Linked DNA regions of Homo sapiens. The protein of the gene in region 1 purifies or fractionates together with the protein of each later gene. This does not show direct contact. Each region holds a gene or a part of one and is shown in the gene's direction. Other genes may lie near its edges.

Evidence for each region.
Region 2: the proteins of IFT74 (region 1) and LRRFIP1 purify together in Homo sapiens (co-immunoprecipitation; 3 studies listed by BioGRID and IntAct, with this or other methods). This does not show direct contact.
Region 3: the proteins of IFT74 (region 1) and SIGLEC7 purify together in Homo sapiens (affinity purification with mass spectrometry; 2 studies listed by BioGRID and IntAct, with this or other methods). This does not show direct contact.

What each region holds. Positions count from the first base shown.
Region 1 is NC_000009.12:26,962,767-26,966,420, forward strand, and holds part of IFT74 (intraflagellar transport protein 74 homolog), read left to right. Parts: intron 1-3,654. UniProt on the Homo sapiens protein: Component of the intraflagellar transport (IFT) complex B: together with IFT81, forms a tubulin-binding module that specifically mediates transport of tubulin within the cilium. Binds beta-tubulin via its basic region. Required for ciliogenesis.
Region 2 is NC_000002.12:237,756,461-237,760,114, forward strand, and holds part of LRRFIP1 (leucine-rich repeat flightless-interacting protein 1), read left to right. Parts: intron 1-995; coding exon 996-1,088; intron 1,089-2,268; coding exon 2,269-2,361; intron 2,362-3,603; coding exon 3,604-3,654.
Region 3 is NC_000019.10:51,148,692-51,152,345, forward strand, and holds part of SIGLEC7 (sialic acid-binding Ig-like lectin 7 isoform 1 precursor), read left to right. Parts: intron 1-3,654. UniProt on the Homo sapiens protein: Putative adhesion molecule that mediates sialic-acid dependent binding to cells. Preferentially binds to alpha-2,3- and alpha-2,6-linked sialic acid.

The sequences.
Region 1 (3,654 bases):
AATAACAAGTACTGAAAAGGAAAATATTTTTATTATATATCTGAATTTACAAAAAATAAAACACCATAAAAAATTAGAAATGACAACTGGTAAAAACATTTATAATATATATACCATATATAGGATCAGAATCTTAAAATTAAAAGGTAAACTTTACTAATTTTTTTTTTTTTCTTTTTTTCTTTTTTTTATTTTTATTTTTTTGTTATACTTTAAGTTTTAGGGTACATGTGCACATTGTGCAGGTTAGTTACATATGTATACATGTGCCATGCTGGTGTGCTGCACCCACTAACTCGTCATCTAGCATTAGGTGTATCTCCCGATGCTATCCCTCCTCTCTCCCCGCACCCCACAACAGTCCCCAGAGTGTGATATTCCCCTTCCTGTGTCCATGTGATCTCATTGTTCAATTCCCACCTATGAGTGAGAATATGCGGTGTTTGGTTTTTTGTTCTTGCGGTAGTTTACTGAGAATGATGATTTCCAATTTCATCCATGTCCCTACAAAGGACATGAACTCATCATTTTTTATGATTGCATGGTATTCCATGGTGTATATGTGCCACATTTTCTTAATCCAGTCTATCATTGTTGGACATTTGGGTTGGTTCCAAGTCTTTGCTATTGTGAATAATGCCGCAATAAACATACGTGTGCATGTGTCTTTATAGCAGCATGATTTATAGTCCTTTGGGTATATACCCAGTAATGGGATGGCTGGGTCAAATGGTATTTCCAGTTCTAGATCCCTGAGGAATCGCCACACTGACTTCCACAATGGTTGAACTAGTTTACAGTCCCACCAACAGTGTAAAAGTGTTCCTATTTCTCCACATCCTCTCCAGCACCTGTTGTTTCCTGACTTTTTAATGATCGCCATTCTAACTGGTGTGAGATGGTGTCTCATTGTGGTTTTGACTTGCATTTCTCTGATGGCCAGTGATGATGAGCATTGTTTCATGTGTTTTTTGGCTGCATAAATGTCTTCTTTTGGGAAGTGTCGGTTGATGTCTTTCGCCCACTTTTTGATGGGGTTGTTTGTTTTTTTCTTGTAAATTTGTTGGAGTTCATTGTAGATAGATTCTGGATATTAGCCCTTTGTCAGATGAGTAGGTTGCGAAAATGTTCTCCCATTTTGTAGGTTGCGTGTTCACTCTGATGGTAGTTTCTTTTGCTGTGCAGAAGCTCTTTAGTTTAATGAGATCCCATTTGTCAATTTTGGCTTTTGTTGCCATTGCTTTTGGTGTTTTAGACATGAAGTCCTTGCCCATGCCTATGTCCTGAATGGTAATGCCTAGGTTTTCTTCTAGGGTTTTTATGGTTTTAGGTCTAACGTTTAAGTCTTTAATCCATCTTGAATTGATTTTTGTATAAGGTGTAAGGAAGGGATCCAGTTTCAGCTTTCTACATATGGCTAGCCAGTTTTCCCAGCACCATTTATTAAATAGGGAATCCTTTCCCCATTGCTTGTTTTTCTCAGGTTTGTCAAAGATCAGATAGTTGTAGATATACGGCGTTATTTCTGAGGGCTCTGTTCTGTTCCATTGATCTATATCTCTGTTTTGGTACCAGTACCATGCTGTTTTGGTTACTGTAGCCTTGTAGTATAGTTTGAAGTCAGGTAGTGTGATGCCTCCAGCTTTGTTCTTTTGGCTTAGTATTGACTTGGCGATGCGGGCTCTTTTTTGGTTCCATATGAACTTTAAAGTAGTTTTTTCCAATTCTGTGAAGAAAGTCATTGGTAGCTTGATGGGGATGGCATTGAATCTATAAATTACCTTGGGCAGTATGGCCATTTTCATGATATTGATTCTTCCTACCCGTGAGCATGGAATGTTCTTCCATTTGTTGTAAACTTTACTAATTTTTAAGTGCTCTTTCTGTATTAAGACCACAAGCCTTATGTCCAATCAAAATTTCATGACATTTCTTTTGATGCTAGGGGTAATATTATAAAACTATTCTAAAACTCATCTAGAACAATACCACAAAAATAAGAAAAAGTACAGTACTCTAATGTAAAATATGTTATAGACAATGAGTGAAACAATATTCTGATTGCCACGGCACCTGGAGGTAAACTCTAGTAAATGTTAAAGAGCTTAATATAAGAGAGTGTGTCATAAATAGTGAATAAGAGAAACACATCATATGAGGAAAAGTTAGATGAAGTTTATGAGTTGATATTCTAAGCAGAAGGATATCCTGTAAAGATAATTATTACATTTTCGTTATCATTATAATGTAAAAATTGGGAAACAACCTAGAAGACTTACAACAGGTGAATCTTAAATAATGATATGTATATCCCTATAAAGGCTGTTAGATAGTCATTACAAACTACTTTCAAGATATTTCAGAAAATAATATACTTTAACAAAAGTTTAAAAGTGATATCAATTTAACATAGAAAACATAAATTTATAAATACATAGAATTGAAATGGAAATAAATGAATAGACAAAAATGTCCATAAATTTATCTGATTTTCACACAGGTGATTTCAACTGAGAAGGTGCAGAGGGCCAATACTCAACCTCCTACAGTAGGCTAAGTGCAAACTACAGATAATGTTGGGTCCTATGGTTAACTCATAAGAAGAGCAGCATTTTTTGGAGGGAATAATTTTGTTAAAGTCAGATTTTCCTAAAGTTTTCAGATTTTTTTTCTAGAGTTTCAGGTAATAATATTAGGACATCGTCATCAACTTAGACTGAAATAATTTTTCTGAAGTCTTCATACATAGGATAGTAAGGGTATCTTTTTCTTTTATTCCAGTAAAAATTGATAATTAAATATTTATAAAAAGAATCTGACATTTATTGGCCACCTACTATTTGCCAGGCACGTTATCTGTTTATTTGTAAAATTTTAAAATTTGTATGTATTCATGGGGTAGGTCAGTTGTCTTACATGCATATATTATGTAATGATGAAGTGTGGGCTTTTAGTGTACCCATCACCTGAATAGTGAACACTGTACCCAATATGTAATTTAGCAACCCTCACCTTCCTCCCACTCATCTTTTGTAATCTTTAGTGTCTGTTATCTCACTCTGTATGTCCGTATGTACCCATTGTTTAGCTCCCACTTATAAGTGAGAACATGCGGTATTTGACTTTCTCTTTCTGAATTGTTTCACTTAGGATCATGGCCTCTGGTTCCAACCATATTGCTGCAAAAGACATGATTTCTTTATTATGGCAGAGTAGTGTTTCATAGTATGTGTATATATATATATGTGTATATGTGTGTGTGTATATATATGTATATACATGTATACCACATTTTCTTTACGTAGCCCTCCATCTCCATTGATGGACAGTCAGGTTTTTTTTTCATATATTCGCTATTGTGGCAAGTAGTGTGATAAACATAGGAATGCAGGTATCTTTTTGAAATAATGATTTCTTTCCTTTTGCAGTGGGATTGCTGGATCATATGATAGTTCTATTTTTAGTTTTTTGAGGAACTTCCATACTGTTCTCCATAGTAGTTATACTAACTTACATTCCCCCCAACACTGTACAAAGGTTCCCTTTTCTTTATATATTTGTCAGCATTTGCTATTGCCTTTCTTTTGGATAAAAGTCGTTTTAACTGGAGTGAGATGATATCTCACTGTAGTTTTGATTTGCATTTCTCTGATG
Region 2 (3,654 bases), on another chromosome or scaffold:
TATAAGGACACTAATCCTATTTGATCAGGACCCCACTCTTATGACCTCATTTAACCTTAATTACTTCGTAAAAACCCTATCTCCAAATACAGTCACATTGGGCATTAGGGCTTCAACAGATGAATTTAGAGGGACACAATTCATTCCATGGCAATTACTAAAGTTTTCAGTTTTCTTAAATCTGAGAGTTTAGGCTAACTCTCCATCCCTAGATTTACGAAACAGTCCCTCTCATTGGTGAACATTCCTATTCTTTGGTGATCTTGTATTTGTTTGGGGAGGTGTGGTAGACAGAATAATGGTCCCCCGAAGTTGCCTACATCCAGATCCCTGGAAACTGTAAATATGATGCCTTACATGGTTAAAGGGCCCCTGCAGTTGTGATGAGAGACCTTGAGAGAAGGGATTATCCTGGATTATTTGATGGAACAAGCATCCTTCTAAGAGGAAGGCAACTCAAAGGCAGAAGTAGAAGATGTGACACAGGAAGCTGAGGTTGGAGCGATGCGAGAGAGGGGCCATGAGCCAAGGAAAGCAGCTCAGTCTTAGAAGCTGAAAAAGGCAGGGAAACAGATTCTCCCTAGAGCCTTCCAGAAAGGCTTGATTTTAGCCCATAAGACTCATTTTGGACTTCTGACCTCTAGAATTGCAAGAGAATAAATTTGTGTTTTAAGCTGCTGAATTTATGACGATTCATTACAATGGCAATAAGAAACTAATACAGGGTTGGTTTTTAATTTTTTGACTTAATCGGTTCTTTAACTGCTGCCTTGAAGTGAGAATTTCACCCAAAGCAGGTTTTCTTCCTGCACTTCTTGAAGCCGGAAGTAGGACAAGGAAAAAAATCCTAGAATGCTGACAATGAGTTCAGGGTTGATGAGGTGAAAGAGTGCTTGCGGCCTCACTCACTGTCCCAGCTCTCAGGTTCTCTCTCGGGCTGGGGTTTTTCTTCCTCTTTAACCCTTTATCTGCTTTCTGTCTGTTCCTTTCCTCAGGAAATCCGACAGCTACAGCAGAAACAGGCGAGTTCTATCAGGGAGATTTCTGATCTTCAGGAAACAATAGAGTGGAAAGACAAAAAGATAGGGGTAGGATTCCCAAGTCTTGAAAATCTACTCAAATGGGCAGCCTGCTTAGCAAATAGAGTTTTTTCAGAGTCTTTAGTTTGCAAAACCGCTTGTCTGAGTATGCATGCAACTCCCACGTGACACAAAGTCGTATTAATTTATTTAATTTTATTAAGTAGTGAATACACTAACTTATCCAAATTGATATGAACTTGGATTGTGACACGGACTCTCCATGGAGGGTCTTGTGAATGCGTAGCTGTGCGCTCTGCCTGCCCCGTGGCTGGGCCGGGCCGGTGGTTGTTGAAACAGCTGGAGTGAGGAGGACACTCTGAGGAGGTCTGATGTGTGCAAGTCCAGACGTCTTGGGATTATCTGCCTGGTGGTGCTTTGAGAAAAAAAATCTAAGCACCACCAGGCAGATATCCCCACTTTGAAATCTTCCCCAGGGAAGGTCTCCACATACCCTTCTCCCTCCACAAGAAGAAAAGAGGCAGTTCTACACTTAGAATTGAAGGATAGGGGGAACAGAACCCCACAAAGTAGTTGTCATGATTGGTAACAACAAATGGTTTCCCCAAAATGGTGATTCCTACACATAGCTCTAATAAAGACGTCGAGATACCTGCACAAACCATCGGCACGTTGACTCAAGCCACACTGTGTTTCCACTGTCACGCTCATCAGCACTTAGGAGTGTGTGTGTGTGTGTGTGTGTCTGCATGCACGCACACTTTAGGACCACTTCATTTATCTGAGATGATGGATACCAAGAATCAGTGTATAAAAATAGTCTAAATGGCTACAACAGCCGTCCTGGGAGGTGCTTAAGCAATCCCTTTTCTTTACTGACCCCTCATTCAAGTGGAGACTTTGCGTAACTCTAACGCAGCTGTGAACACGCAGACAAAGCTAGAAAGTGATGCAAATATAGTAACCTCTGGGGCCCCGTGCTGTGTCCGTGTGCTTCAAGATGCGCATGTCTTTCATGGAGTATGAACAGTAACATTTCTTGGATTATATATACTAAGCGAAAAGCTTAATACTTGGATTTTGTTAGTATCTTTAGGCAGAGTCTCTTTAATGTCTAGAGTCCACTAGTGTTTTAGATGGTAGAAGCCTCCTTCTGGTTCCTGCTTCTGAAGTAACTTGCTCATCTGTGCAAATCTTCTTCTTTCTCTTGGCTCTGCTGCACACTCAGGCATTAGAGAGGCAGAAAGAGTTCTTTGATTCCGTAAGGAGTGAACGGGATGATCTTAGAGAAGAAGTAGTCATGCTGAAAGAGGAATTAAAGGTATGAAGCCAAACTACAGTTTTATTTAAAAAAAAAGAAAAAAAATCCAGGTGACAACAGCAAATTTTGGGATGCTGTGAATATGTGTGTACATAATTCATTTTATGTCATTTAGTTCTGTTAATAATTCATATATTGGGTTAACTGACAGCGATGAGATGTAAAATAAATGTAGGTTCAGTGGGTGGTGCCCAAGGCCTTTTGATGTTAATAAACATAGCCAATCTTGAATGCAAGAATTTTTTGATACATTATCTAAATTTTTCTCATACTCACTAGTAAATTCTCCAGGATATTACTCAGACTTAGAGAATTAATTTGCCTCTTTATATTAAAACCCCCAATTTAAGGACTTCTCTAGAGGAACAGTGACTTGGGTAAGTGGTTTGGGCAAGGATCCCGCTAATTAGACTTTGAGACCTACTAGATTACAGGTGGAAGACGGTTCCCTGTCCTTGGTGGGCCACGCCAAGGCGTCTTCAGCCGCTGCTTGACACAGGTGAAGCGCCAGTGGCAGCACTCTGGGTGGGGGGGTTCCTGAACCGTCACCATCTGCTGCTTGGCCTCCAGGGTCAAAGCCAGAGCAGTGAGCCAGCCAGCTACAGGCTTAGAGCTAAGATTCGTAATTCTGCTCCTTGAAGAGGCGATCAGTTCAGGGGAGTTCCTCACACACAAGGGAGAGAGAGCCACAGGCGGCAGGAGGGCATGGGTGAGTGATGTCTGCAGTTGGGAAGTGCTGCTGTTTTCAGTGAATTCTGTTTCTTTTGAATATACTGAACATTCTAGCCACCTCTGAATTCCTTCTTTAACATAAGTTTCGTGTGTCTCTTTCAGAACATGTATATATTTCTTTCTTTATCTGGTTTCTCTTTTTAAAGAATGCAATCAGGGTTTTGAAATGAAAGGTCACTTGGCAGTGACTTGCTTACTGCTCCACTTGGGGGCAGCCCACAGGCCACTACCTGTAGTTAAAAAGGATGCCTGGTGGAAGTAGCTTGTCACCAGCAAATGAAAGCATGGATTGGAACATCTGAGAAAGAAGTAGCCTTTGGAGGACGATATCCCAGATTTGTGTGTGTTGACCGAATATTTACGAGTGCTGCACCCTAGCATTTCTCTTGTCTCTGTGGAGTTACCCTGTACTTCAGGAAAAAATGGTTTTCTTTTTTATTATTGTATTAAAACAGAGTTTAACCTAATATCACTGAGTAAATATTACGATGAGCCTATTTTTGTTCCCAGAAACATGGAATAATCCTAAATTCAGAAATAGCTACCAATGGAGAGACTTCC
Region 3 (3,654 bases), on another chromosome or scaffold:
GAGTATAAAACCAGTAATGTGATTGCTATGTCAAATGATAGTTCTGCTTTTAGCTCTTCAGGAAATTACCATACTGCTTTCCACAGTGGTTGAACTAATTTACACTCCTGCCGACAGTATAAGTGTTCCCTTTTCTCTGCAGCCTTGCCAGCCTCTGTGATTTTTTTTACTTTTTAAAAGTAGCCATTCTGACTGGTGTGAGATGATATTTCATTGTGGTTCTGATTTGCGTTTCTCTAGTGATCAGCGATAATGAGCTTTTTCTCATATGTCTGTTGGCCAAAAATGTCTGTTCATGTCCTTTGCTCACTTTTTAATGGGGTTGTTTTTCTCTTGTAAATTTGTTTAAGTTCCTTATAGATGCTGGATATTAGACCTTTGCCTAATGCATAGTTTGCAAGTATTTTCTCCCATTCCGGTTGTTTACTCTGTTGATGGTTTATTTTGCTGTGCAGGAGCTCTTAAGTTTAATTAGATCCCATTTGTCAATTTTTGCTTTTGTTGTGATTGCTTTGGCATCTTTGTCAGGAAATCTTTGCCTGTTTATCCAGAACGATATTGCCTACATTGTCTTCCAGAGTTTTTATAGTTTTGAGTTTTACATTTAAGTTTTTAACCCATCTCGAGTTGATTTTTATATGTGGTATAAGGAAGCAGTCCCACTCAATCTTCTGCATGTGGCTAGACAGTTATCCCAGCACCATTTATTGAATCAGGAGTCCTTTCCCCATTGCTTTTTTTTGTCAGCTTTGTTGAAGATCAAATTGTTGTAGGTGTGTGGCTTTATTTCTGGGCTCTCTATTCCGTTCCATTGGTCTATGTGTCTGTTTTTGTACCACTACCATGCTGTTTTGGTTACTGTAGACTTGTAATATAGTTTAAATTTGGGTAACGTGATGCCTCCAGGTTTTCTTTTTGCTTAGGATTGCCTTGGCTATTTGGGCACTTTTTTGGTTTCATATGAATTTTAAAATTGTTTTTTCTAGTTCTGTGAAGAATCTCATTGGTAGTTTGATAGAAATAGCATTGAATGTATAAATTTCTTTGGGCAGTATGGCCATTTTAATGATTTTGATTCTTTTTATCCATGAGCATAGTATGTTTTTCCATTTGTGTCACCTTTGATTTATTTGAGCAGTGTTTTGTAATTCTCATTGTAGAGTTCTTTCACCTCCCTGGTTAGCTGTATTTCTAAAAATTTTATTCTTTTTGTGGCAATTGTGAATGGGATTGTGTTCCTAATGTGACTCTTGGCTTGGTAGTTCCTGATGTATAGAAATACTAGTGATTTTTCTATATTGATTTTGTATCCTGAAACTTTGCTGAAGTTATTTATCATTTAAGAAGCTTTTGGGCTGGGACTACGAGGTTTTCTAGATATAGAATCATGCATCTGCAAAGAGGGATAGTTTAAATTCCTCTCTTCCTATTTGGATGCTCTTTATTTCTTTCTCTTGCCTGATTGCTCTGGCCAGAATTTCCAATACTACGTTAAACAGGAGTGGTGAGAGAGGGCATCCTTGTCTTGTGCTGGCTTTCAAGGGGAATGCTTTCAGCTTTTCCATATTCAATATGATGTTGGCTCTGCGTTCACCATAGATAGCTCTTATTATTTTGAGATATGTTCCTTTAATACCTAGTTTACTGAGAGTTTTTAACACGAAGCGATGCTGAATTTTATCAAAAGCCTTTTCTGCATCTATTGAGATAATCATGTGTTTTTGTCTTTAGTTCTGTTTGTGTGGTGAATCACATTTATTGATTTGTGTATGTTGAACCAACATGAAGCCGACTTGATCATATTGGATTAACCTTCTGATGTGCTGATGGATTCAGTTTGCAAGTATTTTGTTGAGGATTTTTGCATCAATGTTCATCAAGGATATTGGCCCGAAGTTTTCTTCTTTTGTTGTGTCTTCGCCAGATTTTGGTATCAGGATGATACTGGCCTCATAGAATGAGTTAGGGAAGAGTCAGTCTTCCTCCGTATTTGGGAATAGTTTCAGTAGGAACAGAAGGAGGCTCAGATCTGACATTTATTGTGTGATTGAAGAGCCTTCCAGGCAGAGGGAGGAGCAAAGCAAGGCCCAGGCACAGGAAGAGGAAAGGAGAGGAGCCATGGGACATCTGTGTGATTAGACAGAGGGAGGCAGGACTGAGAGCAGGAAATGACTTTGGAGGAGTTGAGCCTATGTGAATTGTGTCTGACTGCACAGGCTACTGTGAGCATTTGGAGAGTTTTGAGCAGAAGGACATGATCAGACGAGATTGGGTCCGTTCAGGGTGGTATAGCTGTAGACCAGAAGAACATGATCAACTTTCATTTTCATGGGATTCCTCTGGCCACTGTGTGCAGAAGAGACCGTGTGTGTGGCAGGGGAAGGAGAGAGCATAGGAGGTAGACAGGAGGCTGGTGAACATCCCAGGCAGAAGGTGGTGTTGGCTGGAACCAAGATAGCAGCAGTGGTAGACATGACTGTCTCCCAGATGAATTCTGCAGTGGAACCTACTGGGATTTGTTAATGAATTGGAATTAGAATGTGAGCCACAGAAAGGGAGCAAGAATTACTTCCAGATTTTTGCCCTGAGCAGTGGGAAGAATGGAGGTGCCAATCATTGAGGCTGAGAAGATTGCAGAAGAAATGGATTTGGGAAAGAAAAGGAGGAGTTCAGATTGAATAGGTTGAGTTTTGTGTGTCTTTGGACAAGAACGCGGGGGTTTGAATTATACCACTGGATCAAAGACTATAGTCAGGAGAAAGGAGTGGGCTGGGGGTACAGATTTGGGAGTCATTAGCCTATTGATGGCATGAAGCCAACACAGTGGATAAGATCACAAGGCAAAGGTAAAGAAGAAAAGAACCCGGGGCTGCTCTGATATTTAAGGTCAGGGAGACCTGAAGCAATTGGCAAAGAGGTTGCCAAGAAGGTGAGGTGGACCCAGAAAAGCATGATGTCCTATAGTTGAGTCAAGAAGGCCTTCTGTGTAGGGAAGGTGAGCAGCTGGGTCCTCTGCTGCTGAAAAGTCCAGGAAGGAGAAGACTGCAAGGTGGACATTTAGACTCAGCCACTTAAGTGGTAGTCACAGTGACCTTGATAGTAGCAGTGCTTAGACTTGGTATGTGTGTGAATATTAATTTGAGTAATCAAGAGAGAATCTGGCAAGCAAAATCACTGACAGTTCCATGGAGCATCTTCTGCACAGGGGAGCAGCAGGGAAGGGCTGCGATGAAGGAGGACCCTCCCAGGCAGCCTCTGTCACTCTCTGCTGTGTGAGTCTGTATTAGTTTCCTGTGGCTGCTGTGACAAATTACCATGCATTTCCTGGCTTCCAACAACACACATGGATTAAAGTTCTGAAGGTCACAACCCCAAAATGGGTGTCACTGGGCCAAAATCAAGGCATTGGCAGGCAGGGCTGGTTCCTTCTGGAGGCTCCAGGGGAGGATGCAATTTCTCACCCTTTCTGGCTTCTAGAGGCACCTGCATTCCTTGGCTCAAGTCCCTTCCTCTGTTTGCAAGGCAAGTAGCCTGGCATCTTCCAATCTCTCTAAGCCCTCCTCCTTTCACTTGTAAGGACTCCTGTCATTCCACTGGGCCCACCCAAATAATCCAGGATAACCTCCCCATGTCAATATCCTTAACCTAGCTCCA